Homo sapiens: one gene and its partner. The protein of the gene in region 1 purifies or fractionates together with the protein of each later gene. This does not show direct contact. Each region holds a gene or a part of one and is shown on either strand. Other genes may lie near its edges.

What was found.
Region 2: the proteins of STK31 (region 1) and FYTTD1 purify together in Homo sapiens (affinity purification with mass spectrometry; one large-scale study listed by BioGRID and IntAct). This does not show direct contact.

The regions. Positions count from the first base shown.
Region 1 is NC_000007.14:23,708,838-23,713,130, reverse strand, and holds the start of STK31 (serine/threonine-protein kinase 31), read right to left. Parts: upstream 2,895-4,293; 5' UTR 2,846-2,894; coding exon 2,796-2,845; exon of another isoform or gene 2,361-2,795; intron 1,033-2,360; coding exon 986-1,032; intron 898-985; coding exon 845-897; intron 1-844.
Region 2 is NC_000003.12:197,784,177-197,787,997, reverse strand, and holds the end of FYTTD1 (UAP56-interacting factor), read right to left. Parts: 3' UTR 402-3,821; downstream 1-401. UniProt on the Homo sapiens protein: Required for mRNA export from the nucleus to the cytoplasm. Acts as an adapter that uses the DDX39B/UAP56-NFX1 pathway to ensure efficient mRNA export and delivering to the nuclear pore.

The DNA of each region.
Region 1 (4,293 bases):
TGATGTTCATACAGCGACGCAGTTGCCTAATGATGCATTTCTCTGTATGTATCCCAGTCATTAAGTGATGCATGACTATATATTTAAGAACTCTGGGTTAATCATATTCTTCTAGAACTTTCTTCTCATATATTCTCCTTATTTCCCACATTACGAGTTCACCTCACCCCCCACCAAAAGGAGTTCCCATGCTGTAGGGAGTATAGAGAAACGTAATTTCTTTCCCTTCCGTATCATGTATAGTTTACAAAACCAAAAATTAGCAGGTCGTTCTGTGCATCAGAGGAATTTACCTTCTTAAATTGTGGAACACAGCCCTTCAGTGCTTGCTTTGTATTTAAAACTGAGTAACCTTACCTAACTGACACCCTCCCAACAGAAAATCAGAAATGTTTCATTCATGCTTCCAATTCTATAATGAGAAAAATACCACATCTCAAATTTAAGCCATTAGAAAAAACGACCGAGATTTTTAACTTATCCTCCTTCAAGAAACAATCTTATAAAAGACCCCTAGATGGGGCTATAACTTCACAAATACAACAGGCTCTCAGAATCCAGCAAAAGCAGCCTAGAATTGAGTGGAATTCTGAAATCACAATCTTGCCAATTTTCTTTTTTCAAACTTGGTGTATTATGGGCATAACACTTGACTCATAATGAGTCAAGTAACATCACAGCTGTCAACATTTGTCTCCTAATAATGCCTGGTGATAAATAATTCAATAAATATTAGGCAATGAGAATGACAAATGTATTTATTCCTGGGTTTTATTTTTGTTTTTGTTGGGGAGGAACTGGATTGGGGGAGGTGAGGGGGGATATCAACCAGTTTGCTATTTACCTGGGCCCAAAATGTTACTGCATCTTCTATGTGACTTCCAACCACATCTTCCACTAAAATCAAATCACAATACAAGGAAAATTAGAAATTAATCAGTATCATCTAGCTCTTACACCCCAAAATAATTTTTAGTGTCAGTACCTTTATCGTAATGTGTATCTTCATCCATTTGAACAATTCCTGAAAAACTAGAACAATACCTTAAATTAGATTACAATAATCCACCATTAATAATGAATGAAGACTAAACTACATCATGTTCAATTCTTACAAATGTTTTGTCCTAAATGCAGTTATCAAAATTCAAACTCTATATTAAAAATGAGCTCAATATTTCCTTCACTAACTAATTCTTTTGAGTATTTTGTAGTAGATGCAATTTTATCATATATAATCTCTATCCTTAAAATTATCTCTAGCCAAACTTTTACAAACTTATACTGAACTCATATACATTTTGATCACTTACATAAATCAATACTTTGAAACAATGTACATATTCTTTTTTTAGAAAATATCCTCCCATAAAAAGGACTTCCACAATGTAAACAAAGAGAAACATTACAAGTAATAGAACAAATGCTTTAAACTGGTAGTCTATTTTATGTAAAAGGCACGGTGGTTACTATTTTTGAAGATTCCGTGGGATTAAAGACTGCAAAAATACCTAAAATTTTGCCTATTACTTCAAAAATAATTTTAATTACATAATATTATACTTTATCAAATGCAAAAATATTCCAAAATAAATGTACACTATGTAATTTTATCTGTAATATACTAAAATACTGCACTTTCCATTCATAAGTGTTGAAGGAAAATTAAAACACAGATTTTTTATGGGTTTTTTTTTTTTTCCCCCCAAACGAAGTCTTGCTCTGTCGCTCAGGCTGGAGATCTTAGCTCACTGCAACCTCCACCCCCCGGGTTCAAGCAATTCTCCTGCCTCACCCTCCCAAGTAGCTGAGATTACCGGCGCGTGACACCACGTCCAGCTAATTTTTGTATTTTTAGTAGAGACGGGGTTTCACCATGTTGGCCAGGCTGGTCTTGAACTCCTGACCTTGTGATTTGCCCACCTCGGCCTCTCAAAGTGCCGGGATTACAGGCCTAAGCCACCGCAATTTTTTAAGAGCTTTAAAAGTTGTCTAGGAACACCACTATACTAAAGTTTCAAATGCTCTCTCATTATGAAAAGGAAAACATTAACTCCTCATCACAGAAAAATAAAATTTTAAAAATGGATTACTTTGTCACAACTTAATTTTTTAAAAAAATTTTTCGTAAGTGGCATGAAAATGTCTCCAAAGCAAGGGTTCTTTTCTACTGGTCAAAAAGCAGTTTTTAAATTCAACTGACTGAAAAGCTGTAATAACTTTTAGGGAGACTATATATTCCCACGGAAAGCATTAAGGCTTAAATTCAGTAAAAGTTAAAATTACTTTGGAAATCTCTCCACACACTCCAAGAAGCTACTTCTAGAGTAGTTTTTAAATCTTATTTTAAAATGACTTGCCCTGATTATGAAGGCACTGATGCCGTACCCACTTTCTGCAAACAGAGATCACAAAATAGTACGTCCAAATCTCCACTTCGTGATGAAAATTTGGAAGAAACGGGTACACGTAGCTCTCTGACACTTATTTTATAAGGGATTTTGAAACTTAAATGGCACAGAATTTTCGAGAAGGGGAAGAGAGTGTGGAGGCTGCGTGACCGCGTCTTCATGGAGATCATTCAGGCCGGAGGTCTTTTCGAGCCACTTTCGCCTGCCTGCATGCACTCAAAAACTGGGGCATCTGGCACCCCTCTGGGGTGGCGGGCGGCTAGAAGGTGACAGAAAACCCTGAAATGGGCCTCGTCCCAGGATTGGAGACTTAAAACGCAAGCAGCGACGAAAATAGTCCTTGAAGCGGCCACCACTGCACGTACCACAAAAACTACTACTGACCTCACACTTTCCGTTGCGGAAGCTCTAGAAGAGTGACCCTGGACCCACATACTGGACTTTCGGCCCTCCGCCCGCCGTAGCACACGTGCAGCGGCTTACCGCGTGAGCTTCGACCGCAAGGGCCCCACACTGCGCCTGCGTGCACAGCGCTGCGCCATCATCCGGTGTTAGCGGGAGTCACGTGGCAGCCACGGCCTGCCGCCTAGGAAGAAGCGTGCGGGAGCCGCCTGACGCTGGCTGCTGCCGACCCCCAGGCACTGAGGCTGCGCCCTGGTGATTTATAGGCCGGGGTGGGGTCTAGGGCCAGTTCCTTTCGCAAGGCTTCAAGCTGTGACTTTAGAGGTGACGTAGGATTTCGTGGTCTTTCCTAATCTGTTCACGTGGATTTAAATTTTAGAAACACCCAAATTAGAAGAACCCCGACATTCTATTTACACGATGGAAGAGAGAAAATAACTTTGGTAACTGAAAATGTGTTTTTCAGATTGGTAGCTTTACAAGCGTTGGTCAACTAATCCTTAGATTCCACAGCTCTCTGTAGTATTACAACTTTTTCCACAATCTTAAGAAGAAAAAATTAGTTGTCTGCTTCTTTGCAGATATTACACTTTGTGGCAAACCTTACACAACAATTGAAAATTATCTCCGGTTAATTTTTAACAGCTTGAAGGTTAAAGTACAATAAACTGCAGATATCAAAAGTGCATAATTTGTTAAGGGTGAACATATGTATACACTGTTGAAATCACCTCCACAATTAAGATAAACTTTTCCATCACCTCAAAGTTTCCTCATGCCCGGTTGTAATACCTGACTCCTCCCAGCTCCCGTTCTGCTTTCTGTCACCATATATTAGTTTGCATTTTCTAGAATTTTACGATAATAGAATCATACAGTATGAACATTTAATCTAGCTTCTTTCCAATAGCATAATTATTTTGATTGATAAATTTCGTCCTATGTGTCAAGAGTTTGTTGGGTTTTATTGCTGTTACTATTCCACTGCATGAATATAACACAATTTGTTTATCTACCTTTTAATAGGTGTTTGGACTGCTTCCAGTTTTGAATTGTTTCAAATAAAGCTGCTATTGTGTGCAAGTCTTTGTATGGACATATGTTTTCATATCTCATGGGTTAGTACCTAGGAGTGGAATGGCCAAGTCATAGAATTGTATATGTGCTTAAAAAATTGCCGCATAGTTTTACACAGTTGTACTATTTTATATTCCCACCAGCGGGTTTCAGAGTTCTAGTTGCTCTATATCCTCACCATCATTTGATATGGTTTGTGTTTTTAAGTTTAAACATTCATGTATAAATGTTTAAAGTGGTATCTCCTTGTGATTTTAATTTGCATTTATTTCTCTACTAACTAAAAATGTTGAGAAACTTTTCTTATGTTTATTTTCCATCCAGATCTTCCTAAATGAGGTGTCCAAGCTTTTTCCTGTTTTCTAACTGAATTTATTATTGAGTTTTGACAGTTCTTTATATA
Region 2 (3,821 bases), on another chromosome or scaffold:
CTATATATACTATTACATGAGAACAAGTCCTAGGTAAAGGAAGGATGGAAGGAAAGATAGATTGAGCAGTTAACGCTGTGACTTCTAAGGAGTTGAGGCTTCAGCTACAAAGTAAAGGTAGACTATGAGGGAATTCTTACCCTACTCTCTCAGTCATCTCCATAAAGTAGGTGACAGCGTCTTATGAGAAAGAGATATAGGAAATGGAGTCTTTGTGGGGAGTTCACCAAAGAGTCTAATGATGAATAAAAGAAATGATGAAAGATAGTTGTACAAAGGCCAGGAGCAAAGTGGCTTACAGGGATCTGTAACTTCTTCCACCACTGGTCTGTGGTCTGGGAGCAGAAGCTGAAAAAACAGGCAGCGCAGGTTATTCAGTGTTAGCAATTGATACAGTGTACTTCCCAGTTCTTCCTGTTTATTTTACAGACTGAAAGTTAACTCATTCAACACAGGGGGCAAAAGTTTCACTCAAATCTTAATAGTTCTTTCCAGCTCTGCATTTCACTATATCATGCAAAGGTTATGTCCTCCCTTCCCCCTTCTACTCAGTAGAAACATATCATGGTCACTCCTTCTAAGACTCCACTTCTAGGCCGGGCTCCGTAGCTCATGCCTGTAATCCCAGCACTTTGGGAGTCAGAGGCGGGCATATCACCTGAGGTCAGGAGTTTGAGACTAGACTGGCCAATATGGTGAAACCTCGTCTTAGTACAAAAATTAGCTGGGTGTAGTGGCACGTGCCTGTAATCCCAGATACTTGGAAGGTTGAGACAGGAAAATCGCTTGAACCCGGGAGGCAGAGGCTGCAGTGAGCCAAGATCACTACTGCACTCCAGCCTGGGCAACAGAGCAAGACTGTCTCCAAAAAAAAAAAAAAAAAAAAGAATCCACTTTTAGGGCGGGCGTGGTGGCTCACACCTGTAATCCCAGCACTTTGGGAAGCTGAGGCAGGCAGATCTCCTGAGGGTAGGAGTTCGAGACCAGCCTGGCCAACATGGTGAAAACTCATTTCTACTAAAAACACAAAAATTAGTTGGCTGTGGTGGCTCAAGCTTGTAATCCCACCTACTTACGAGGCTGAGGGACAAGAATTGCTTGAACCCGGAAAGGATCCTGGGAGGCAGAGGCTGCAGTGAGCCGAGATTGTGCCACTGCACTGCAGCCTGGGTGACAGAGTATTCCGTCTCAAAAAATAAAAAAACTCCGCTTTTATAAACTCCAAGCAGTATGAATCCCATTCTCTTCCTTGCTGAATACATTTAATTCTAAATATTTGCTGAATATATTTAATAAATGTTTGATCCTTCCATTGCTTACTCCTTTAAAAACAAGTCCTAATAATTAACTTTTTTAAACTTTATACAGGAAAATTCAGACAATATGATTCTTTTCTCATTAAAGGGAAATGGAGTAAGTAGAAATTAAATATGCACACTAGGAGAATAACTTCCAACTAATCTTTAAACACTGGTATACCTCATCTGAATACACTCATAAGACGACATTTCAGTCCCAGAATGGCATCACATTTGCTTGTGTTATCAAGCTTCCTGTTAAACATAGGTAGAAAATAAGCTGTAGGCTGGGTGCGGTGGCTCACACCTGTAATCCCAGCACTTTGGGAGGCCGAGGCAGGCAGATCACCTGAAGTCAGGAGTTTGAGACCAGCCTGACCAACATGGAGAAACCCCGTCTCTACTAAAAATGCAAAATTAACTGGGCATGGTGGTGGGCACCTGTAATCCCAGCCACTTGGGAGGCTGAGGCAGGAGAATTGCTTGAACCCGGGAGGCGGAGGTTGGGGTGAGCCGAGATCGCACCATTGCACTCCAACCTGGGCAACAAGAGTGAAACTCCATCTCAAAAAAAGAAAAAAAAGAAAAAAAAAAAAAGAAAAAGAAAAAAGAAAATAAACTGTGGTGAGAAGGGAAATAAAAGATATTAGAAGTCTACAATTTCTAAGTAAATCTTTAAATCCCTATTAATGGTCCACCATAGTCCACAATTCTTGTTGTAAATGCTGTGTTTACTGAAGTATCATTTAAAAAAAAAAAAAAGAAGCTAGTTCCAAATTGATCTATCCAAAAAGAACCCTCTCTAAAGGGAAGTTTTACATGCTTAACTGCTTTTTCACAGTGGCAAAATAATAATAATAATAATAATTCTGATGAAAACTGAAAGCACTACTGATCAGAAATGAATTATTTTCTGCTTTAATATTGCCAATATGGTATTCATTTTCTGTGCTGCCAAGTGAGCTATTTTTTCTCTTATCTCCTTATAGTAAAAATAAATCAACAAAAATTATTCTGGGCCCGTATACTTTGTGTGAATTACAAAGCTATTTACAGTAAAATATTAATAATGATATACATACCTAGTCTAATAAAAACTCACTGCTGAGCAATGAGGCCTGCTGGGCCCGTATACTTTGTGTGAATTACAAAGCTATTTACAGTAAAATATTAATAATGATATACATACCTAGTCTAATAAAAACTCACTGCTGAGCAATGAGGCCTGTTTCCTCAGACACAGTATTTTACGATTGGCTTAAACAGTTGGCCCTTCAACAACATGGCTTTGAATTACCTGGGTCTACTTATAAGCAAATTGTTTTGAACCAAAAAAACATCTTGGAATGGAAAATCCATGTACACAGTGGGCCAACTTTTCGTTTACACAGATGTGGGACTTCAGTATTGCGCAGGGTTGGGTATATACAAGGGTCCTGGAACCAATCCTCCGTGTATACTGAGGGATGACTGTAATTAAAATTGTGGTGAAGAGTTTATGCCTGTTTTTAAAAAATGCATATCTGATTAGGAACACTGGACTTTTCTAACAGGTCTACCTAACCCAAATAGCAAAGTAATAAAGTATAACCATCACTGGTAGAATAGATTTACTTACCATGCTAAAAATGCTAAAGCATGGCTATTACCAATTCTTAGGTATTTGAAAACCACACACCATTCCACTATTTTCTGTGGGTGTTAATTCACCAAAGCAGTTTATTATCAATTAAGAATTAGAAGATCTGAGCTCAAAAAATAACTCTGCCACATGCAAGTCTTGAAAACACTAGGACTCACTTTACTAAGGTGTAAAAAGGAGGGGTTAAACTGGATTAGTCTCTAAAGGCTCATCTAACCCAATATTCTGCATTGCAAAGTATACTGGATTCTTTTTTTTTGTTTTTTTAAGACAGAGTGTCACTCTGTCACCCAGGCTGGAGTGCAATGGCGTGGTCTCGGCTCACTGCAATCTCTGCTTCCTGGATTCAAGCAATTCTCCCGCCTCAGCCTCCCAAGTAGCTGGGACCACAGGCACATGTCACCACACCAGCTAATGTCTGTATTTTTAGTAAAGATAGAGTCTCCCTATGTTAGCCAGGCTGGTCTTGCTCCTGGCCTCATGATCCGCCCGCCTTGGCCTCCCCAAGTTCTGGGATTACAGGCATGAGCCACCGTGCCCAGCCTGGATTCTTCTTTTTAGATTCATTTGTTGGAGCTACAAATGAAATCATCAAAAGAGAGAGGGATGCTAATAGAAGAGTCTACAGTGATTTACCAATTTTGCTAGTAGATAAGGTTTCACACCCTAAAAACTACAAATATAGATAACCACTACAAAGTTCTTCGTAACATAGAACAATCTAAAAACCACAACTCAATCTTTAGAGCTGAGAATAAATCATGTGAAACCTGTAACATTTTATTTGTTAAAAATGAACAGCTTCAGAATAGATCTAAATGTAACTTTTCCAAAAAACACCAAAAAGTACAGTGTAAAGCACCTCCTCGTTAAATACAAAC